Linked DNA regions of Homo sapiens: regions 1 and 2 are each linked to region 3. The links come from fine-mapping of genetic effects on gene expression. A gene starts in region 3. Each other region holds a variant in brackets. All regions are shown on one strand. Distances are from middle to middle.

Region 1 (8,187 bases), 52 kb before region 3:
ACCAGTTTTTCTGACTCTTAACCCTAACATCTGCCACACTGAAGGAATCAATGGGCCTAGCTGTTAAAGACTAGGAGCATTTTAGAGAAGAGTTTCCTTGGAGAAGAGATTAATTCACCTCAGGTCAAGGGAATAGGGCCTCAAGGAGTCACTGAGAGCTTAATAGCGTCTCCCCTGACAAGAGGAGAGGGACAGACTGGGGAGCTTCCCTGTCGATGTGGAAGGAAGTGCTGAGCTGAGGAGCGGCCTGCATCCTCCAAGTCTCTCACCACAAGCACGGGCCATGAATAAGAGAGAGTGAGCATGGAGTGGTCTGGCCACCCTAGCTGCTGAAATGAAATCGTGTTTGACAAGGTAATGCAGCCACAAGTCTGAACAGAAAAATCATGGGACTGCCCAACTGCTCACCCACAAGCAGGGGAAGAACTTCCCCTAGGTAATAGATTCCCAAAGGACAGAGCGGAACAAAAAATGCATTTGTTCTTCGACTCTGTCCCATGGTGCTGCTTGTCCAACATCCTGGTTACACGTATCTCCTCCCTGTGCGGATGTCCTCCTAAAGCCTACAACTGTCTCCCAACTGGGAAGGAAAAACTGAATTTCTTCCAAACATCAGGCAACTGTACTCATAATAGGCAGCTGGAGACTGTTTGGAGCCTGGCTACTTAAGGGCATAAATATAAACTCATCGAAGAAATAAGTGATCATTTTTAATTTTTAATTATCAGTTATTTCTTCGGTGAGTTTATACTTATATTCTTAACCACCCATAAATGTAGAAACCACCCATAAACAAAGAAAATCCATTTTTCTTTACAATAGATGGCAATGAAAGAAGGCTGTCATCTGAGAAATATAAAAGGAGGGGAGAAGGGAGGAAAAGGGAAATACACATGACTCTTACCCAGGCCTTGATTCTGCTGTTCCCACTCGAGGGCATCTGGCACCTGGTAGGTAGCTCCCTCCAACAGGTCCATGTTTCCCTCCTCTAAGCCTGGTTCCTGGGATGTGATACCAGGGAGGGTAAAACCTGGCAGCTCAGTGTCACCATCCAAGCCCTCATCCAGCGAGTCTGCATCTTTATCTTCCTCATCTTCTTCCTCATCTTCCTCTTCTTCATCTTCATCTTCTTCATCCTCTTCATCCTCATCTTCTTGTCCCTCTAGGCAAAAAGAAATCAAAGGGAAGCATAAACATATAATGAGTTTATGCTGAAACAAATGAATCCTTGGAAATGATCCAAACACTACAAAATAATTGTTTGGCCTTTTGAAACACATCTTTATAGCCAAAGTCAGACAATGTGAACTTTGCAGGATTATACACCCACCATATGTCCTAGAGTTTAAACTTTCAAAACCATAGTTATGTCAGATAAGTATCAGGTATTATGTTTACTGGGAGTCAAAGTTCAAGTAATATGATTTGTTATTAAAGTTATTTATATTTACAAGGGTAGTAAACATCCCCTTGCTGTTTTCTGGAGATCATTAAAAGTTTATCAGTTAGCACACTGTGAAATACTAACAGAACTTAAAAGAAGCTGTTCCCATCCCTTTATAGCTCATAATGTTAAAGGAGACAATTCATTATTTTGGCACAGCTTTTTCTATTCATCCACATCAGTGAGTAGAACTCACAAAAATGGTAAGTGAGGAGCACATAAATTCACTCTTGGATCTTGTTCTCTCTAAGGAAGAGTAATCCAAGAAACTGGAAATAATTGCATCAACATTCTCAATCCAACTCTAAAGGAATTGGGAAGTGGGATATTCACCAGGAGTGGTCAGAAAGGCAGCACATTAAAAATTACCATTATCTTCATTGTAAGAGTTAACATTCACAATTCGTCGTTTTCTTGATTTTTTTTTTTTTATTTTTTATTTATTTATTTATTTATTTTTGAGACGGAGTCTTGCTCTGTCACCCAGGCTGGAGTGCAGTGGCGTGATCATGGTTCACCACAGTCTCAGACTCCTGGACTCAAGCCATCCTCCTCCCTCGGCCTCCCACAATGCTAGTATTATAGGCGTGAGCCATGGCACTTCACCACAAGCTGTCATTTTCAATGCTCCAAGTGGAGTGGGTTTAAGGAACATATGATTCCCAATTTCATTTTGTTTCACCAATGTTAATTTCCTAGTAATACTTCAAGGCCCCATCCTCACCATGGATGCACCTCTGAAGCCCCTGGTAAGTGCCCACAAAGTTCACAGAAGGCCTTCCCTTTGCTCTCTCCCCTTGACTCTCGGCACAGCAGTTACTGCAACAGGTAATTCTCCTCCTATGGTGGAGAAAAGAAGGGAAGAAGAAGAACTGGAGCCACCCAAGAATTGTGAGACTCTCCTTTTCTGCTTCTACACAACTTTCTCCACCCATACTACCTTTCCTCTATCATTCAGAGGCTTTTTAACTTTTAAAAAAAATCACCTTTAATCTTTTTTTATTCTTATATGTCCTTTAACTTTGTAGGATTAATGTCTGTCACTATTCTAAAAATTCAACAAATATGTATCAACCCCCTAACGGGTGCCGTTGCAGACACTAGGGATAAAAGCAATAACGTCTCTGCCTTCGTGGAGCCCATGTGCCACCCAGGGAGACTCACAGCAAACAAACAGATACACCAATAGGCAGGTGACTCTACACTCTCATTAAAACTGGCAAGAAGATAGAAAACGCCAGGCACTGCTATTTTAGAAAGGGTGATTAAAGAAAGCTTTTCTGACAAGGTAAAGTTTGAACAGAGGCCACACCAAAATAATGCATTCTTTTGTTTAATTTAAGTCAACATCTACAGGAAGAGCATTCCCAGTGGAGGAAATGGCAAGGACCTAATCCTTGAGGCAGGTGTGGCCTCGCTGTGTTCAAACAATGGCAAAGAAGCCTGGGCTGGGAGGCACAGGGCAAATACAGGAAATGAGGTAGGAAGAAGTAGGCAGGGGCCAGATCTGACTTTTTTTTTTTTTAAGTCTTTTATTTATTTCAATAGGTTTTTGGGGAACAGGTAGTACTGACTTATATTTTTAAAGAATGACTCTAGCAGCAGGGTGGAGAACAGGCTATATCAAAGCAAGAGATGAAAAAAGAAGGCTGACAAGGAGTCCACTTAAAAACCAGGAATAGATTATGGTGCTTTGGACTAGGGTACAATCTGGAAAGAGGAGAGAGGTAGTCATATCGGGGATGTAATTTCAAGGTAGAACCCTGCTGATAAGTACAATGTGAGATGCAGGAGGAAGATCCCACATGACTGAAAACGGGATCTAAAAGATAAGGAGTCAAAACAAGAATTTGCATTTGAGATACAGTAACTGTGTGATGGCCTATGGCATCCAAGGGAATGTTGGAAGTCTAGGGAAGTTTCAAAGCTAGAGATAAATTTTGGGAATTGTCAATTTATTAATAATATTCAAAGCCTTGAGACTGGCTGAGATTATCAAGAAGGTGAATATAGACAGAAAGGGAAATGGTCCAGACCACATTCCCGGGCAAAGCCACCACTTAGAGGGTGACCAGCAGAGGAAGATCCACACAGGAAACAGGAGTAACCACCAGGGTGGGAGAAAATCCAAGAAGTGTGTGGTGTCAGGGAAGGCAAATGAAGAAAGCGTCTCCAAGGGCCCGAGTAAGAGACTGAGGGTGTCCCTCTGGCTTGGACATTGGGAGGGCACGGGGGACCTTGACAAA[A/T]GTTGTTTTGGAGGAATGATATAGACAAAGGCCAGGTTGGAGTGGTTCAAAAAAAGATTAGAAAAGAAGACACAACAAACAAACAAAAAATTCTTACCAGAAATTTGGCTAAAAGGAGAACAGAGAAAATAGGGGGCAGGTGGAGAGAGACACAGGGTCAAGGGTAGGGTCTTAAAATAGAATATAGAAAATAGAACCTGCTTGTAAGTTAATGGGTCAGATCTCATCGAAAGGGGCAATCAATGAGGCAGGAAAGACAGAAGCAGCTGCGGGAGAATATCCTGGGAGACATGGTATTATACAGTGGCTGCATGCATAGACTCTGAAGCCACACAAATTTATTACGGCTGTGTGATTTTTGCACACGTTGCTGAATTTTGCTGTGCCTCAACCTCCTCGTCTGTAAAACTGATATTATTCCTACCTCACAAGGCTGTTGTAAGGATTTCATTAGTTAATTTATAAGGTACTTAAAACTAAGCCTGGTGCATACTGGACAGGTTGGCTTCTTCATAATGACTAAAAGAAGACAAGGTCCAGTGCACAGGCTGGTTTGGATACATCCTCCCCTGAAACGGTAGGAAAAAGGGAAGGCAGAGAAACAGGCATGGTGCAGGAAGGTGGGCAGATTTGGTGGGTAGGGGATCTTTATATTTCTTTTATTCTCGGTCAAATAAAAAAACTGGAAAGGAAAAGAGAAATGTTGGTGGTTTGAGGTGAGAGGAAAAAGCGTGAAATAGTCGTCTTGGAGAGTAGGCGAGTACATTCTCAGAGAAATGGGGCAGGACTGCCAGGCAGCCCTCTAGGCCCACTTCAGATGTGACATCATATATCTAAAGTGAGACCTGTTAAGATGGTTGTGAGTTTTTCTCAAGCCACATTCAGCTGCTTGGGCGCAGGCATGGGTGGAGAGGTGAGTAGGCACAGAGATTTAACCAGCAGCAAGTTTTACCAGAAGAGCTCAATTGAGAGTGTGAGGGATAGAGAGAGGGTAAGAAAGGGTACTGATTGTGTGTGAAGGAGTAATTATAAAGATGGACCAGGGACTCTAATTAAAGAGAAGTTGAAAAAGAGGCTGGATAGAGGAAACATGATGGAAATTTAGGTTATTAGGAAAACTATCAGGAACCATTAAAACTACCTGAGGACTTCCATGTCTTTATTTTAGATTCTTGACAGGTGTTTTCTCCTCCTCTTGGGGGTGGATCCGAAAGGAGTGGCACCCCTTCCTTCTCCTGGAGTGCCCCTGCCTGTACCCCCAAGACCAAGATCACAGCTTCACAATGTAGCAGGGACTCCTGGCCATCCCTCAAAAGTAACTGTTTCTGTGCTAGAAAACTGAAAAACAGCAAGGGCCAGAAGTGAACCAGAGTGCAGAGTGAGGCAGAATCAGTGAGTCAGAGTGATGACGTGGGGCCTCCATGCTAAGGCAGAAAGAAAAACAAGCAGACAGACATCCAAAGGAAAAGCCAAAGATGTTGACCAGAAGGATTAAGCTGTGGGACACTAAGGCCCACATCACCTGCCGCCTGTGTAGTGGGCACCTCATTGATGCAACCAGGGTGACCAAGTGTCTGCACACATTCTGTAGGGGTTGCCTGGTAAAGTATTTGTAAGAGAACAACACCTGCCCTGCATGTAGGACTGTGATGCGTCACACTCACTCACTGCAGTACATCGGTCATGAGAGCACCATACATGAGACTGTTTACAAATTGGTATCAGGTCTCCAAGAAGCAGAAATGAAAACAGAGAATTCTGTCACAAATTGGGCATGGAAGTGCCTAGAGACATCAAAGGGGATACTTGTTCCACAAAACAACACTTAGATTTCCATCAGAATGGTGAAATGAAAGCAGAAGACAGTTCAAACAAAGACCAAAAAAGAGAAAAAGGAAAAGGACAATGATTTTCACAGAAGTGATGAGCAGGAAAGCAACAGCAGCAAGTTGTGGGGACTGAAAAGGAAATGAATCTGCTGCATAGCCCAAGCAATGGTCTGACATCTAAAGAAGTTCACTGCCAAAAATCTTAACCTTTTGTCCTTCAATGAGGTAATAGTCAATCCATAAAGAGAAACTCAAGCAAGTCAATTCTTAGGTAAAAATGACATTTCTAAAATTACTTGGGTTTTTTTTTTTCACAACTTTGTTTGGAGATTTTAACCAGAAAAAAATCTCAATTTGTTTTGCCTGCCCTGCCCGGTAGCATGATAGAAAACAGCAGTGAGGATTGTGAAAAGCCCAGACACCATGGACATGAAGAACCCACCATTGATAGAAGAGAAAACGGGGGAGAGGGTGTGGAGAGGAGGGCAGGTGATGAAACTGTTTTAAAATACGTTAAAGATATTCCTCACAAAGAAGAAGTCTGTTCTTTAATTTCACAAATGGATGGGTAGGTAGGTGGGTTGAAGGAGGGATGGGTGAATGAAGGAGAGAGAGAGAGAGAGAATGCTTTCAAGTTGTGATAAATGCTGAGAATAAAATGAAACTTGGTGGCCTGCTGGGCTGGGTAGTGGAAGAGTGGCATGAGCACATGAGCTGAAAATCACTGGGAGCTCACCTCAAGGTGATAACGTTTTGTGTGAAGATGTAAATTCTCAGCAGGAGACCAGCTCTGCACAGGTAAGAGAAGGCACTGGAAGGCCTCAGGCAGGGATACATGGTTTGGGGCAGGGTTTTAAAATATCCCTCAGGCTGTGTGGAAATGAGTTATGGGGTAGAGAAAGGAAAGCAAGAGAGGCTGATGGCAGGAGTCCCAGGAGAGAAGAACCATGGTGGTGCAGTGATAGTGGAAAAGCGGACAGACTTGACATGTGTTTTGGAGACAGCAGAGGGTGGAACGGTGGTCCCAAAGAGATAAACCCACATCTGGGCCCCTAGAACCTGCAAATGGGACCTCGTTTGGTAAAAGAATCTTTGCAGGTACAAGTAAGTTAAAGATCTTGAGATGAAATAGTCTTGGATTATCTTGGTGGACCTTAAGTACAACGACAAAAATCCTTATAAGAGTAAGGCGGCCGGGCGCGGTGGCTCACGCCTGTAATCCCAGCACTTTGGGAGGCCGAGGCGGGTGGATCATGAGGTCAGGAGATCGAGACCATCCTGGCTAACAAGGTGAAACCCCGTCTCTACTAAAAATACAAAAAATTAGCCGGGCGCGGTGGCGGGCGCCTGTAGTCCCAGCTACTCGGGAGGCTGAGGCAGGAGAATGGCGTGAACCCGGGAAGCGGAGCTTGCAGTGAGCCGAGATTGCGCCACTGCAGTCCGCAGTCCGGCCTGGGCGACAGAGCGAGACTCCGTCTCAAAAAAAAAAAAAAAAAAAAAAGAGTAAGGCAGAGGTCAGGCACGGTGGCTCACACCTGTAATCCCAGCACTTTGGGAGGCCAAGGCAGGCAGATCACCTGAGGTCAGGAGCTCAAGACCAGCCTGACCAATGTGGAGAAACCTACTCTGTACTAAAAATACAAAATTAGCTGGACGTGGTGATGCATGCCTGTAATCCCAGCTACACGGGAGGCTGACGCATGAGAATTGCTTGAACCCGGGAGGTGGAGGTTGCAGTGAGCCGAGATCGCACCATTGCACTCCAGCCTGGGCAACAAGACCAAAACTCCATCTCGAAAAAAAAAAAAATAGAATAAGGCAGAGAAAGACTTGAGATACAGACACAGAGACAAAGAGAAAGTCATGTGGAGAGGGAGGCAGACACTGGAATGATAAAGCCACAAGCTGAAGAATACTTGAGCCACTAGAAGCTGGAAGAGGCAGGAAGGATCCTCCCTGCTATGGTCTGCATGCATCCTCCAAAATTCATGTTTGGAAATTAATAGATTGGTGCCCTTATAAAAATGGCTATGGGAGTGGGCTCATGCTCTTCTGCTCTTCCACCACATGAGGACGCAGCAAGAAGACCCTTGCCAGATGCTGGTACCTTGGTCTTGGACCCCTCAGCCTCCAGAACGATGAGGAAATAAATTTCTATTATTCATAAAACCAACTCCCGCCCCCCCCAAAAAAAAACCCTACTTAAAAACTTTGTGGACCTTCCTCCTATAAACAGGAACTGTCCAAAAAGAGCACTATATTTTTTTTTGGATGTAGTCTTGCTGTGTCACCCAGGCTGGAGTGCAGTAATGTGCACATGGCTCACTACAGCCTCAACCTCCTGGGTTCAATTGACCCTCCCACCTCAGCCTCCCAAAGTACTGGATTACAGCTGTGAGCCACTGTGTCTGACCCCATTTATTTATTTTTGAAGCATTATAAAATTAATTTTAGTGTCCTTTGCTCCCCACAAACCTAAGAGGTTTGCACTGATAAAACAATTGTGACTATATAATCCTGATCTCCTAGGATCACTGTTCTCTGACCACTAGCATCCACCAAAGACAACTTGGTCCTCAACATCTTCAGCCAATCTCTTCTCTTTAAAGTATAGAATTATAAAAAAATGAAAGGAACCTCAAAAGTCACTTTACTCCATCCTATTATC
Region 2 (8,150 bases), 150 kb before region 3:
CATCCTGAGGTAAATGGGCAGTTATGGACCATCAAATGCGAAATAAATGTTTTAATGAGGAAACACAGCTTGCTCGTTCAAATACAACTTAGGATTTTCACAAGCTGTTTTCCTTTCTTCTATTCCTCTTAAAACAACCATGGGAAAACATAGCTACAGAGAGGTAACAAAATACTATGTAAATTATAATCCTGATTTTGTATAAAAATAAAAGTATTTATTGCATATCATAAATGCATAGGAAAAAAAAGATTAGAAAAGTACAGACCAAAATGTTACCAATGTTTATTATTGTTAACATTTCGGGTGGGACTGGAATGATAATTATTCTTAAGTTTTTCTGAATTTTCTCAATTCTGCATATCATTGTCCCTGAGGCCCTCCAGAATCTGGCCTTGTGCTGATATGGCAACTATGGGAAACTTGCTTTATTTTTTATATGCTAAGGAAGGTAAGTGGCTTGACGATTGCCCGTAAGAACTGTCAAAAGGCCACAGAAACTGCTCAGCACCAGGACACAGAGCTGCATTGCTTGATTCTGCAGGCTGCACATCTAAGACCAGATGTTGTCCTCATACATACCAGCCCTGAGAAAAAAGTTTCTTGGATTTGTTTTCAAGAAAAACAAGATATTGAGCTTTGTTCCCTTGTCAAAGAATAAGAAACTCTCCTATTAGCCTTTACAAATCAAGACAGTCAAACAGATCTGAGATAGTAACTCATATCTAGGGATCAACCAAAGTAATCCCCTAAAGGTATTAGGAGAATTTTCCCAGATATTTAAGTTTCATTAAATGCAAAGTTAGTTCACTGGTACCTACTATTAAAAGTAACAGAAAATGGCGAGGTGCAGTGGCTCATGCCTGTAATTCCAACAGCTCAGGAGGCTGAGGCAGCATAGCTTGAGCCCAGGCGTTCGAGACCAGCCTGGGCAACATAGTGAGACCCTGTCTCTACAAAAAATAAAAAAAAAAAAAATAGCTGAGAGTGCTGACACACATCTGTAGTCCTAGCTACTCAGGAAGTTAAGGGGGAAGGATCACTTAAGCCCAAGAGTTTGAGGCTGCAGTAAGCCATGATTGCACCATTGCACTATAGCCTGAGTGACAGAGTAAGACCCTGTCTCAAAAAAAGTAAACAAAAGAAGTCACAGAAAATGACCACACATTTACACTTTGTAAAAATTAATGCTGCCTATACATTTCTGGCAGGCTTGTAGGTTATTTTTCTCAGGCCTAGATATGCTGGGATAATACAGGGTCAGCCCCTCCAGAAGGCAGAACACTAGACCATCGTATCTAGAAGCCTCAAAAGTCCCATGACCCTAGTCAGCTTTAAATGTTGTCTTTTCCCTCATCTCTCCATCTAAACAATCTGCAAGTCCCACTGTCTACCCCTGCTGAACACCGCCAGAACCCATTCTCCCCTTCCATGTTCATTTCTGCAACCTTGGTCCAGGCCATGATTATCTCTCACTTACATTGCTGCATCAACCTTGACCTTCACTGGTGTCTCTGACTCCAGACTTTAACCTTCCCAAACCAGTCTTCCTATTAACTCAGGCCTGATCATAACACTTCACAGCATAATATTTTTGCATGACTTCTAATTGCCCTCAAATAAAGTCCTCATTCCTTGACAGGACCTAGAGGATCCTTCCCATTCAGCCCCGTATTTCACATAGCATACTACCCTCAACCCCAACTCTCACTCCCCTAGAATACCTAGCACCCCAGCCAGGCTAACTACTTGATCTCTCACCCCTGGCCTTTGCACATGGGGTTTCTCTGGCTAGATCACATATCCCCTTCTCCCCTTTATCTGAATAACCCCACTCATCCTCCTGGCCTTAGGTTTGATGTTACCTGCTCTGGAGAAGCATCCCTGATCTTCTTGACCCAGTTAGATATTCCTTTTCTGGATCCCAGTGTCTCTGATATGAAATTGCCCATTTTCTGTCTTCCCTACTAATCCATAAGCCCTTTCCAGTCATGGACTGTGTCTTGGCTCCCCCAACACTTAACATATTACCTGACACATAAAAGGCATTCAATAAATACTGATTCAGTCAGAAGCAATATCAAGTGTTCTTGGTTTGCTGAAGATAGAGTCTCTAGCCATCCTCACCCTCCTCGGCAAAGAACCAATCAAATCTTTGGGATTCGATTGGTTCAACCACAAAACCATTTCCTATTCCTCCTCCTTTACCTCTTACATAAAGAGGGAAATAAAGGAAAATGACCATTGAAGGTTTTGTATCAAAATTCCTTTTTGGAAGACTACTTATAATTTCCTACTTTAGTCTGTCTGGTCATGAAGAAGTCTGAACTACACAAATGCTGTGGCCATGTCATGAGACATAAAATTAGAGAAATGATTCAAATGCTTTTGGTCCCTTCCTTTATTTGACTGCTAATTAGGAAGAGAATATTGAGATGGACATGACACTGGTTAATAAAAACCTCAGTTTCCTGAACTGATGCCAGGTTTATTCTTTTGAGACTAGAGCAGATGATCTACCCACCTTAAAGGTAATAAAATAATCCAAGTGGATGCCCACTTTGCCTGCAACTTTGCTTGCACTCCATTCCTATACCTATACACTTTGAGAAAAAAGATAACAGGATTTTCCCCCCACAGATAATTCTTCTGTTTCTACTCCTCAGTTCCTCCATCCTTAACCCACAAAAGGTTACACCTCTCAGCAACATCCATCTGAAGAATTTATACTCTATATTACAAATTGTTGATGGTTATCACTTACATAAGTGATCTTTTCCTGCTGCTTCTTGAAAAGAGAAAGTAGGATATTTGCTTTACTAGGTGGAATATGTAAGTTTTTTTACATCAATTTTTTTGTGCTTTTACACAAACTAGAACATGGGAGCAAATGACTTGTTTCTTTGTGCTTTTGCTGCTACTTACTGAGGGAATTCCTTAATTACTTCCTTCCTTCCTTCCTTCCTTCCTTCCTTCTCTTTATCCTATATGCACATGGTAGAAATTTGGGTTAATTAAAAGGGAGTTAGATATACCTATTACCCCAAATAGGACACTCCCAGTGCATTTGTATTACAGCGGCTTGCAAAATAAATGCTGGGGTTTTTTTCTGCATGCAGAAATTAAGCAACAGGATTATGTTTCCAGCTATGTTAACTGCCAGTCTATAATTATCAGGGCAACATCTCTCCACAGCTCATCTTCAGCTTATCAGTCTAGGAGTGCTAAATGTGCACATGTGGGACTTTTACTAAGTCAGTACCATTATTTTGCTTTCAAATTATTTCCTATTCCTAGAAGTTTATATTCAGTCATTTGAAGACTGTGCAATTAAAGAAGATATCTAACTGAGCTTAAGCTCATTTAAAGTAACCAAGCACCTTTTACCTCCTCATCCATCTTGGACTTCAGTTCCCCACCCCCAGCTATGTTCATTCTAACTACTATGAGATAATATTATTTGATGGAGAAGGTGGAGGCAAAATGGATTTGTGTAGCTTTATGGTCCCTTCTCCTGTTAATGATCTTCCTCATTTGTATTCTTCTCCTTGCTTTTCTCTATATTTTTTCAAGCATTGGTCCATTCAGAACTTTGGCATCCTCCAGCACTTTCTAATGTTTTGTGCCATTTTTATATTTGCCTTGCATTATGATTTTCCTCCATCTTCTTCTACCATATTTCTTTGCTTGAAACCACACCTTCACATACCATAAAGGGAAGAGATTTTTTTTCAGTTGTGTTCCTGCCTCTTCAAATTCCTCTGTGGTCATAAAAAAGCCTGTCTTGCCAAAATGTCACGTAGCTATAACCTTGCGCCAAATAGTACATCTTGTTTCCAAAAGCTGTTTTTTTGGCAGCTGGTAGGAACATGGATTATTCATATCTGCAGAAATCACAATCCCTGTGGAGGATTTGATTCTTCTCCCCCAGGTTGTGGCTGTGATTGGAAATAAGGTGTTTCATTTGGACTTCTACAGGAAGAAGACACCTGGAGGCAGACACAGAAGGAAGAGCGAGGTATTCAGTATGCTCCATGCACTCTATGTAATTTTCGGATACCTATATAAAATGTTTTGGCTTTTAACGCTTAGCATTTGGGGAAAAAAATCATAAAATGAAAAACCACTTTTAATTGACTCTTCAAAAATTACTTTAAATGTGTTCTAAAACTTGGCTTTAAAATTTCTTCATACAGTTTTGACCTATGTTAAGAGATA[C/G]AGGTACTTTAAGAAAGTGTTTCTGGAAAATTGTATTTGAGGCAGTTTATCAGCTGAAGGCACAGCTAAGGCATCGCTAAGGGAATCTGTTACCCTGGGATACTAATTAACTCCAAATATTGCATATAAATTAAGCTAGCAGCTACTGAAAGAAACAGCTTATGGGAAAGAAAAAACTAAAGAGGTTGGAAAGAAAAGCACTGTCTTTTCTAATTAGAGAAAAAGACATCAGGGGTATGGGAGAAACCCTTTTCTCTCCATCCCAGCCTTCTATTCTTTTTCTAGTAGCTTCCATCCTTTTCTCTTTCCTTGTTTTCCTTTCTCCTTTCTCCACAGCAGGTGTGATTTATTGGATAGCATGACCAGGGAAAGTGTCTCTTCCTACAGGGGACTGCTCTCCTTGTCTCTTTTGTGTGTGTGTGTGTGTGTGTGTGTGTGTGTTTGTGTGTGTGTGTGTTAAGAACATTTAATGTGAGATCTACCCTCTTAACAAAAATTTTTGTTTTGTTTTGTTTTTTGTTTTTGTTTTTGTTTTTGAGACAGAGTCTCACTTTGTCGCCAGGCTGGAGTGCAGTGGCGCAATCTTGGCTCATGGCAACCTCCACCTCCCGGGTTCAAGCGATTCTCCTGACTCAGCCTCCCGAGTAGGTGGGACTACAGGCGCGCTACCAGGCCCAATTAATTTTTTGTATTTTTAGTAGAGATGGGGTTTCACCATGTTAGCCAGGATGGTTTCTATCTCCTGACCTCATGATCTGCCCACCTTGGCCTCCCAAAGTGCTGGGATTACAGGCGTGAGCCACCACACCCGGCCCTCTTAACAAATTTTTAACTGCACAGTACGATATTGTTAACTATAGGCACTATGTTATACAGCAGAGCTCTAGAACTTATTCATCTTGCATAACTGAAACATAATTAATCAACATCTCCCCACCTTTAACTTTGCCCAGCCCGTGGCAAGCACCATTTTGCCTCTGCCCTTATGAGTTTGATTATTTTGGATACCTCAAAGAAGTGCAATCATGCATTTGTCCTTCTGTCACTAGTTTATTTCACTTAGCATAATGTTCTCCATGTATATCCATATTGTCACAATGACAGAATTTCCTTATTTCCTATGGCTGAATAATATTCTACTGTATGTATATACCACATTTTCTTTATCCATTCATCTATTGATAGATATTTGCATATCTATCAATGCAATTTCCATATCTTGGCTATTGTGAATAATACTTATAAGCTTATTGTGAATAATATGCTTATAAGCATAAGCAATGAACACAGGCGTACAGATACTTCTTCAAGATCCTGATTTCTATTCTTTTGGATATATGCCCAGAAGTGGGATAGTTGGATTATATAGTAGTTCTATCTTAATTTTTTGAGGAATCTTCATACTGTTTTCCACAGTGGCTATCCATTTTACATTCCCACCCACAGTATACAAGGATTCCAATTTCTCCACATCCTCAGAAACAATTGTTATATTTTGTTTTATTGAATAATAGCCATCCCAATAGGTGTGAGGTGGTATCTCATTGTGACTTTAAATGACCTTGTCTCTATCATAAGGAAGTGGTTCTCTAGATAGATCCCTCCTAGCTGTGTTCCCAAGCTTGCTGGGGCATGAATACCCCAAGCTCCTTCCCTGGAGATTCTAACTCATCAGGTCTGGGGCAAGGCCTTGAGATCTGTATGTTTCACAAGTGTCCCAGGTGATTTTTATGAGCCTGCAAATTCTGGAAACACTGCCTCTCCCTCCGAGAAGAAGACCTAGTTCCTGCCCCTGCGGTGGGATGCTGGCAGTTCTGGCTGGGTAAACTCAGTCCAGTGGGGATGGTGTTCACAACTGAAGCTGCAGGAATCAGCCCTCCTTTCCAGACAGCTTTATTTGTTTCACTGTTAAATGTTTTAAGCCTAGTTGTTTGAATAAAAAGTTGACTTTCTATTTTAATTGTGCAAATATAAGCATACTTGTCACTTATTTTGGGTAAACCTACAAGTGCCTGATTTACTACTTCTCAACTGGACCACTATATAACCACTGGCCAGCACTTCCATCTCGTAGCAGCATCTCTAATCCCAGGTTTTGTTTAAAATATGACAACCTTTTCTGATCCTCTTAATAATCTAAGCCAACCACTGAAAATCATTATTCCACAGCCACCAGCAGCAAGGAAAATGGCCAAAATAAACATGTCATTTGTACCATCCACCGACCTTCCACTCAATCCAGATGTTTAAATGGGTTTGTACAGAAATGTACTCTAAGTATAATCTTTTCCTTTAAGAAATCATGTGTCCCAAAAAGGACCACAGAGATACTGTGTTAAGCCAAAATTCACATACATGTCATCCTCACGGACCTCTGAGAAATGAAAATATGGGTCTGTTATTTGGGAATTTATTACACTACAGTTTGAAGATTCAACCTATTAGCCATGGTTTAGTTAAGACTATAGATTGAGTAGCCCAAGGCAATAATGGCCACTAGTATCACCCATGTGCTACTCAGTTAAGTGGCCTACGACGTATTCTCAACAAATAGTTTGTCAAGAATACAAAGACAGTAATGCCACACCATGCTCACTTACTCCCAACCTTAGAAACACTTACAGCAAAGGGCTGCTCTTAGAAAAGGAAAACATCCCTTATGCAATATCAGGATGTCTCTACTCGTGAAATTACAAATCACTTCTGAGTGTCATGATTCTGAATTCTATTTTTAAAATCTGACCTTGAGCTAATTTGCCAGTTGCTAACTTCTATTTGACTGTACAGAGCTTTTCACTTCTCTTGATCAGTTTCACATATTTGCTTACATCTCTTGGCAAAAAGAGTTAAAATTATTTGATGAAAATGTTCTTGTGAGCCAGACATTATTCAAAAACGGATTCTAGGAAGGTTTATTAGTTCCATAGAGGTGATACTCAAATGTATGACTGTAAAGGAAATAACTGATAACTGAGATGGGGAAGGAAAGAACTTGTGTGTGAGTAAGAGAGAAATTAGAAAGGCATCATTCATTTAACAAAGATGGAAATTCACATCAAACGTTCCTTGACCAGGCAGCTATTCCCTGCTATTCCCTTAGAACCTTTGTTTTAAAGAAGGACCCTGAAATGTCACTGCTTCCACCAAAGTCTATGAAAAGGTTACTGAACTGAAGATAAGGGTGCATGGCTGGGTCCAAGTGGGTTCTCACGCTGATTCTCTCTGGGTACAACTTTGGAAAATCATTTCACTTCTCTGCTTCAGTTCCATCTTCAGTCAAATGGGAGAATAAAAACATATGTCCTACCTCACATAGTAGCTCTGAGGAATAACTGTGCAACTTTTCTTGAACATAGTAGACAACTTCTAATAAACACCAACAAGTACTCCACAGTGACAGCACTATTAATAAATAACTTTTATTCTTCCATGGCAATGAGCCAAGCCTTTACCCCAAAACTCAACTACAAATCCTCAATCCCTAGATTCAAATAGCGCATTGGAATATCCTATTTTGTATAGGGCAGGGAATTACATTCCAAGGGAGATGAGAAATGATTGAACATATTTCAATATCCTCATAGCGGGGTGCCCTGAGAGAGGCTGGTTTCCCATGAGCTCTGTTGTTCACCAGGACTCTGGCCACTGGGCAGACAAACGATAGAATGTCTATTTTTCTAATAAAGCCATATAAGGACCAATGGTAGCCCACCTTTTCCATGGTGGAGTCCACAGATGTGGAAATACAACACTCTGAATTAGTCACATTAGCAGCCACATAAGCATAGAACCAAATGGCAGACAGAAATGCTCTGAGAGCTTACCTACCCTCATCTCATTCTTGAATTCTTCTTCATTTTTTCTCGGCAAAATCAACTAGCACACAAAAAGAATATCTCTTAATCATAAACATGTATGACATGTATGATTGA
Region 3 (8,187 bases):
TGTGAGCCACCACACCCAGCTGGTTTATTCTTAAGAATAAAAATTGCAATAATCAATCAAAGACAGCTACCACTTAGGAGCTGCTATGTGCCAAGCGTTCTAAGTGCCCAGTGGAAATTATCTTATTTAATCCTTACAACAACCTAATGAGGTATACTGTCGTTATTCCACTTTTTAAATGAGGAAAACAACAGGCTGGTAGAGGATAAGTAACTTGCCTAAGGGATAGTGTCTGTTTTTGATCTTTTGGATTCTGTCAGAATTCAACGTCCCTACCTTTGCCAGACAACTCTCTGCTTTCCCAAAACACAGCATATAATGTCCCCAAATATGCAATTGCCAAAATCCATCTCTAATAAGGCAACCCCATACCACTGGTGCCCAGTATAAACACCATCATCAGTCACATACATAGCACTTTTATGTGCCATACTCATCTCAGGCTCCTAAGTTGGTTTTTTGTTTGTTTTATTTTCGAGATGGAGTCTCGCTCTGTCGCCCAGGCTACAGTGCAGTGGCATGATCTCGGCTCACAACCTCCACCTCCCAGGTTCAAGCAATTCTCCTGCCTCAGCCTCCCGAGTAGCTAGGATAACAGGCATGTGCCACCACACCCGGCTAATTTTTGTATTCTTAGTAGAAATGGGGTTTCACCATGTTGGCCAGGCTGGTCTCGAACTCTTGGCTTCGTGATCCACCCACCTCGGCCTCCCAAAGTGTTGGGATTACAGGCGTGAGCCACCGTGCTCAGCTCTCAGGCTCCCAAGTTTTGAGAATGACACTGTACGACCCATGGTTCCCTACCCAGGTATCCAAACCCTGGCCTCCCAGGTCACATCCCATTCTGGCCCATTCTTTCCCCACCCTTCTCCTAGCTCCTGTAGCATGAATTGTCATTTAAGTCTCAGCACCTCAAATGAGATTATGTTCTTTGCATACAAACACTAGTCTTTACCATTCCTTTGTTTGCCACATAATTAGTAATAAGGGTAGGCACAAAGAGGAGAGATTCCATAAATATTTGTTGGCATGATGTGAATATAAATAACCATTTAAGAATATGAAAAAGAACGTTTCAAGTCCTTATTTTGTACTGTAAGATTTTTTTAATGACATTTCATGGTCTAACCATGTCTACTTGTATGTTTTATTCAATACCTAGCCAATTTTGGCTACTTATTTAACTGTCACTCTAACAATAACAATAACTTATGTGTTCTCATTTCTGCTATATTTTAAGGTTTCAGAGTTTATTACACACACACACACACACACACACACACACACACGCAACAGACCAACAGTTACAGGTAACAAGTCTCACAGCGTCAAGTCAACATGCTTGCCAAATACCATCTCACCTTTTGAAATACAATTAGTGATTCTCTGATGAGGGGGATAGTGTCTTAATAATCTTTGTGTCTTAATAATCTTTCCATTTTGTGTCTTAACAATCTTTCCACTTTGTCCTTTTCATGACCATTCCTCAATGATTAATTTATCATTGTCTTACTTTTTCTTTTTTTAAATCCTTAAGGCTGTTACTGCCAACACTATTTTATTGCCAATACTATTGTATTTACTTAAAGCTGAGCTTATAAAGACTCTCACTCTATTAACCCAGCTGTGGCAAATGGCATTAAGGTACCACGTTTCTGATTCACTGTGCTACTGACAATCATCACTGGTCTGTTATATTGGCTTTAGGATCTAGGCTGCAGCTATACTTCACCATAAATTAAATAGCTGAATGACAAACAATCCTTTCAGCAGCATGTTCCATCACAATGGAAGGAGGGAGAAGGAGTAAGTAACCACAAAGAAAAGCATGGTCCCCCAGGAGGAAAGCAGCCCCAGAGCTGGCAGGGAAGAGGGTAAGTAGGCTGGGGTCAAAATAGCTAAATTACTGGAAACTAAATACCAGTAAAAAGTACTTTACCATCCCTGAAGACCACACCTAAGTTCTACATACTGAGCCCAGGAGCTTCAGTCTCTACAAATTAGTGATGTAGACAAATGAAGATATCCGTGCTTATCACCCCTAGCATATCATCTCATCCCTGGTAAAAGGAGATGGACTTGAAGATTTAAAAACAGGCTTCTTCGAGTTCCAGTTCTACCTTAGGCAAATCACTGAAACTCAAGTTTTCTTGTTGCAAAGTAGAAATAATAATGCTGGTTATATTTTTTCAAAGGGTGGAGAACACACACAAAAGTGATAATAGACATAAAAGCAGTTTGAAACAAAAGTAAATTATCATGCAATAGAAGACATACTAGCATGCTACTGACATGCATTCCTGTCAAATACAGAAATGTGAGCAATTTGGAGCATCTGTAACATCAGCCACAAATGGAGTAGCATTTTTTTCCCCAAGGTACTTTCATGGAGCTTCTCCTTTCAGCTTTATCATGTAGACAATGTGACCTGAGAGGGTTCTGCTGTCTGCAGAATCCTATCCTGATGAATCTTGATCAACAAACTCTTCTCCATCCATCAGACAGTTTATTTCAGTGACCCAATTGGACATATCATTTCTGGTTTTTGTGGTACACAAATGTAGCCATTTGCTTGGCTAGATCTCTAAGTAGCTGACATTTAAAGGGAAGCTGAAACTAGCTTCAGATACTTCTCTTATAATCACCAAGTAAACACAATATGGAAAAATAAGATTGACCTCACATCTTGCTTAGGGAATGAGTTTTCATTTTACAAAAATTAAAAGCAGTTTCCCTCTGCATAGACAGCTTCCCTATGTGAGAAGTTTTTTAAGTTCAATTAACAAAAATACAATTCCATACACCACTTTTCAGACAAACATCTACAGAATAAAGGGCAAAGGACACCTTTAGGTGGGGAGTGGACATTTTCCACAGCAGATAAACCCGTTTTCCTCATTTTGATTCTACACTTATATTTAGCATCGAACCATTTCCGTAATACCAAATTATAATATTGTAAAGGTCTGGCAGGAAACTCCGGAATATGTAGTAAGAAGCCTCCCATGAAAACAAAGACAAATTCACATCTCTCTAATTGGCTCCGTTGCTGTAGCTACCTTAGACTTGGTGAGCCTTGGGAGTTTCTATGAATAAACTCAACTAATATCAAATCTGTCTGCTGCACAAGTGCTCGGTTCATTATTGTGACAAATACAAAAAAAAAACCACTTTATTCATAAGAGCAAGTCAGAGTACCTTTAAACCTCTGTGTGTAAAAGAAGCAATGTTCTGATACTGTGAAACCTTAGCCGGTTGTGTGTTTCAATAGATGCTACTGTGGGGTTCTACTGGCATACGTGCCGAAGTCAGTCAATGACTGTAGATGCTTGGCTAAAAGGAGACTCCCTGGAGCCCAACAGCATCACTTGTGATCAAGGAAATACACCAAAATAAAGAGAAGGCATGTGAATTCTGACCACTCAAGAATTTTTGCCCTTTGGAGAAGAGATCCTTCAGAACCCTAGGGATGGTTTTGTGAACCACTCCCCACTCCCCCTCAAGTTTCAAACTAAAACTTCCAAAGAAAGAAGGCAGACACTTTAAAGCAGCCATCTCTCCTCTCTTCCACATCAGTTCTGCACTGAAATTGGATGCCAAGTGCTAGGCGGATCCTCGGGATCATCTCATCTTTGAGAACCCAAACTCTTAAGGGTCCTGTTTTGTTCACTCCTGCTTGCCTCCTCGCCAGCCAAGGTTCTACATGTTTGGAATCTACACAAGTCAGATTCTGTCAGTGACCACGAGGCACATGAGACATTTGGGCACCTCCGGCAGCACCTCCCAACTATTCCGGAGTCTCAAGCAGAGCCTCGCCTCCCCCAGGTCTAACCCGCAGGCCCTCTTTCTAATTAAGTGACCTTTCCAAGGAGCGTCCTCCAGCCGCGTCCTGGGGGACGAGTCAGGGGCTGAGCAAGGAGGCTCGACATCTCTGCGCTAAACACTCAACTGTTTGTTTTCTGCAAAGTGGCAGGACATATTTCGGTGGTGACCGCAGCAACGATTCGCTCCTCGATTGTTAGGCTCTGAGTGGCATTGGGGACACTGCGATCGACGGTTTGAAAGGAGTAAACCGTTGTTTTCGGGAACTTCTCTCTCACTGCTGTGGGATTGCGAGCGGAGGGAGAAAGAGAAAGAAAAGCCCACACAAAAGCAGCCAGCCCTGCAAGCTCCGCCAGCACAAAGGCCGGCTCGCTGGTGCGGAGCTGGGAGGCTGGGCTGGAGCTAGGAGTGCGGTGAGTCCTCCGAGGCCTGCGCGCCGCGCCCAGCGCGCCCAGAGCTGCCCCCGCGCACCCCACACCTGGGCACCGCGCTCCGGAGGAGGATCGGGGCGCACGCCTGGCGCACCCAGGGCTGCAACGCTCCCGGGACTGTTACGCTCGCGGAGCGACCCCACGCCACTGAGGCTCCGGTTCCGTCCCTGCCCCGGCGCCACGTCTGCAGCCGCGGCCGCCCAAGTGGCCGGAGCCGGGCCCGTCCTCACCTGTGCGCCTTCAGCTGAGCAGCGCGCGGAGGACAGAGGCAGCGGCGGCGCGGGCGCTCGGCATCCCAGCGGCGGGCCCTGCGGCGGCGGCGGCGGTAGCGGCGGCGACTCCCTCCGCTGTCTGGGACGCTAGGGGGAGGGCGCTTCGCTTTGTTGCTTATTCATAAGGCCGCGGCTACGGCCGGGGATTGGGCGGTGAGTAGGTGTGCCCGCCCTGGCTCTGCTGGCACTGACAGCCGACGCCGTCGCCCACGCCCCCCTGCGCCCACTTCCCCGCCTCCGCTCTCCCGCGGGGGCGGCTTCTGCTGGAGTCCCGGCACCTGGGACCCCTCGGAGATCCCGTGCTCCGCTTCCCCTCTTTAAGCGGGAGCTTCTGCGGCAGCTCGCCTCCCTATCTACGCGGAAGAGACCAGGGCACCGTTTACACGAGAAAAACCTCAATTTTGCTGTCTTTGGTTCAGGCAAGGAGCGCAAATCTGAGACTGCAGTGTTCCTTGTGGAAACTATGGACGGCTTGGCGGTGCCCTTAAGTAGGACCCTTAAAGTAACTCTACACAGAATGTCCCTTCTCAGTCCGTCGGAGAAGTTGCAAACTAGTGCTAGTCACAAGTAAGGTTTATTGAGCCCTTACTCCTGCCAGGCACAAGAGTAGATGCTTTGCCCATTACTTTACCTGCTTAATCTGCACGATAGAAGGGTAGATATTGTAGTTCTCATTTACCAGGGTAGGAGGTTAAGGCTAAGGGCTGTGTAACTTCTCCAAGGTCATCCGGCTCGCGTGGCCACCGGGAATTTGTGTCCTCCATTCTTGAGCCTCTCAAGGACTGTTTTCTTTTTCTGTTACTTCTAATGGTGTGGAAAGAGGTGTCGGAATCTAAAGGCCCGTTTTGGAACAACCTCCACAACGCAGCATTTTACATTTGCAGAGCACTCTTCACATTTGTCCCTTATTGTGCTTATTAGCTCCCTTCTTCATAATACCTTAGTCCCCTTTTGTAGTTAATTATAAACACCTTGAAGTCAGAGCAAAAGCTGGCTCACCTTTGACCCCCACACCTAACACAATGCACAGGTATGTACTGGTTTCTGTTTGTTTGTTTGTTTGTTTTTGAGACAGGATCTCACTCTTTCCCCCAGGCTGGAGTGCAGTGGCGCCATCATGGCTCACTGCAGCCTCGACCTCCTCCTGGGACCTCAAGCCATCACCCACCTCAGCCTCCTAAGTAGCTGGGACCACAGGCATGCGGCACCACGACTGGCTAATTTTTTATTATTATTATTATTATTATTATTATTATTATTATTATTATTATTGGTAAAGATGGGGTCTTCCTATCTTGCCCTGGCTAGTTTCAAACTCCTGGACTCAAGCGATCCTCCTGCCTCGGTCTACCGAAGTGTTTGAATTATAGACATGTGCCACGGTGCCCAGCAGGTATGCACTGTTACCCATTCCCCCTCCCTTTAGAAATTATTATCTATGTATAATCATGCATTGATTAATTAGGGGAATACATTCTAAGAAATGTATCCTTAGGCAATTTTGTTGTTATGCGAGCATAATAGTATACTTACACAAACCTAGATGGCATAGCCTACTACGTACCAAGGCTATATGGTATAGCCTATTGCTCCTAGGCTACAAGCCTGTACAGCATGTTACTGTACTCAGTACTGTAGGCAATTGTAACACAATGGTATTTCTATATCTAAACATTGAAACAATACAGTAAAAATACAGTATAAAAGATAAAAAATGGTGCATCTGTATAGAGCACTTACCATAAATGGAGCTTATAGGACTGGAAGTTGCTCTGGGTGAGTCAACGAATGATGAGTGAGAATATGAAGACCTAGGACATAACTGTACACTACTGTAATGTACGTAACCTTACACTACTGACATAACTGTATACTATTGTACATAACTACACTACTGTAGTTATGTAGGCTATAACTGTATGCTACACTACTACTGTAGTGTAAACAATGTACACTTAGGCTGTACTGTAGACATAAACATTTTTTCTTCAATAATAAATTAACCATAGCTTACCTGAATTTTTTACTTTATAAATTTTTTTTAACTTTTGACTCTTTTTTTCTTTGAGACAGGGTCTCACTCTGTCACCCAGGCTGGAGTCCAGTGGTACAATCACAGTTCACTGCAGCCTGGACCTCCTAACCTCAAGCAATCCTCCTGCCTCAGCCTCCCCAGTAGTTGGGACTACGGGCACATGCCACCACGGCTGGGTAACTTTTGACTCTTTTGTAATAACACAGCTTAAAACACAAACATATTGTACAGCTGTTCAAAAATATTTCATTTCTTTATTTCCTTATTCTATAAGCCTTTTTCTATTTAAAAAACAAAATTTTAAAAGGCCAGGTGGGTCATGTCTGTAATATCAGCACTTTGGTAGGCTGAGGCGGGTGGATCACCTGAGGTCAGGAGTTCGAGACCAACCTGGCCAACATTGCAAAACCCTGTCTCTACTAAAAATACAAAAATTAGCCAGACATGGTGGTGCGTGCCTGTAATCCCAGCTATTAGGGGGGCTGAGGCAGCAGGATCGCTTGAACCTGGGAGGCGGAGGTTGCAGTGAGCCAAGATCGTACCACTGCACTCCAGCCTGGGCAACAGAGCAAGACTCTGTCTCAAAAAAAAATTAAACTTTTTGGTTAAAAAACAAAACAGAAACACACACATTAGCCTGGGCCCATAAAGAGTCAGGATCATTATCACCATCTTTCACCTCCACATCTTGTCCTGCTTCAGGGGCTATAACACACATAGAACAGTCATCTCCTGTGATAACAAGGCCTTCTTCTGCAATACCTCCTGAAGGACCTGCCTGATGCTGTTTTACAGTTAACATTTTTATATACAAGTAGAAGTAGTATAATCTAATGATAAAAAGTACAGTACAGTAAACACATAAGCCAGAGTAGCATAGACATTTATTATTATCAAGTATTTACTGTACATTATTGTATGTGCTGTAATTTTATATGACCGGCAGTATGGTAGGTTTGTTTACACCAGCATCACCACACAAAGGAGAGTAATGCATTATGTTGCATCGTGCTAGGATATTCCGATGGCTACCATGTCACTAAGTGATAGAAACTTTTCAGCTTCATCATGATCTTATGGGACCATCATTTTATACGCAGTTTGTGGTTGACTGAAACATTATTATGGGTACATAAGGTACTTCCAGAATGTGATTGGATTGAATTGAATCTATGAAGTTTGTTTGTTTGTTTTTAGACAGGGTCATGCTCTGTCACTCAAGCTGGAATTCAGTGGCCCAATCACTGCTCATTGCAGCCTCGACCTCCCCAGGCTCAAGCAATCCTCCCACCTCAGCCTCCTGAGTAGCTGGGAGCACAGGCGTATACCACCACACCAAGCTTTTTTTTTTTTTTAATTTTTTGTAGAGACGAGGTTTTGCCATGTTGTCCAGGCTGGTATTGAACTCCTGCACTCAAGTTATCTGCCTGCCTTGACCTCCCAAAATGCTGGGATCATAGGTGTCAGCAACCACACCTGGCCTGAGATCTGCTTTTTGTATGTATTCAGTGCAATACATTGCACTGTGGCCAGGTCTTCTACCTGGATTCAGTACCCACCAGGTGGATGAGCCACACCCAGCCTGACCACGTTGTATTTCAGCATTTTATTTTTAAGTCAGTTGTTT

Direction of the effects. Positions count from the first base shown, and alleles are read on the strand shown. Sizes are in standard deviations (SD) of each study's normalised expression. Not every link is listed here.
With allele T in place of A in region 1, the expression in putamen of the gene that starts at base 4,622 in region 3 is lower (moderate effect, 0.47 SD a copy in GTEx).

Evidence for each region. PIP is the estimated chance that this variant, and not a neighbour inherited with it, causes the effect.
Region 1: its variant is fine-mapped to the expression of ARMH4 in putamen (GTEx, PIP 0.93).
Region 2: its variant is fine-mapped to the expression of ARMH4 in nasal epithelium (TOPMed, PIP 0.94).

Annotation. Positions count from the first base shown.
Region 1 is chr14:58,095,820-58,104,006 of GRCh38, forward strand. It overlaps ARMH4 (armadillo like helical domain containing 4), which reads right to left. Exons shown (of 8, transcript NM_001001872.4): 5 at 905-1,162. It also overlaps the pseudogene LOC100420347. Among named protein-coding and RNA genes, the nearest start is that of ARMH4, 52 kb to the right of the region's middle. The variant A/T (reference allele first, on the strand shown) is at 3,691.
Region 2 is chr14:57,995,861-58,004,010 of GRCh38, forward strand. ARMH4 (armadillo like helical domain containing 4) reads right to left here. Exons shown (of 8, transcript NM_001001872.4): 8 at 4,901-8,150. Among named protein-coding and RNA genes, the nearest start is that of SLC35F4, 130 kb to the left of the region's middle. The variant C/G (reference allele first, on the strand shown) is at 4,219.
Region 3 is chr14:58,147,592-58,155,778 of GRCh38, forward strand. It overlaps ARMH4 (armadillo like helical domain containing 4), which reads right to left and starts at 4,622. Exons shown (of 8, transcript NM_001001872.4): 1 at 4,484-4,622. RefSeq lists silencers at 4,157-4,346, 4,447-4,666, 4,560-4,854, 4,747-4,816.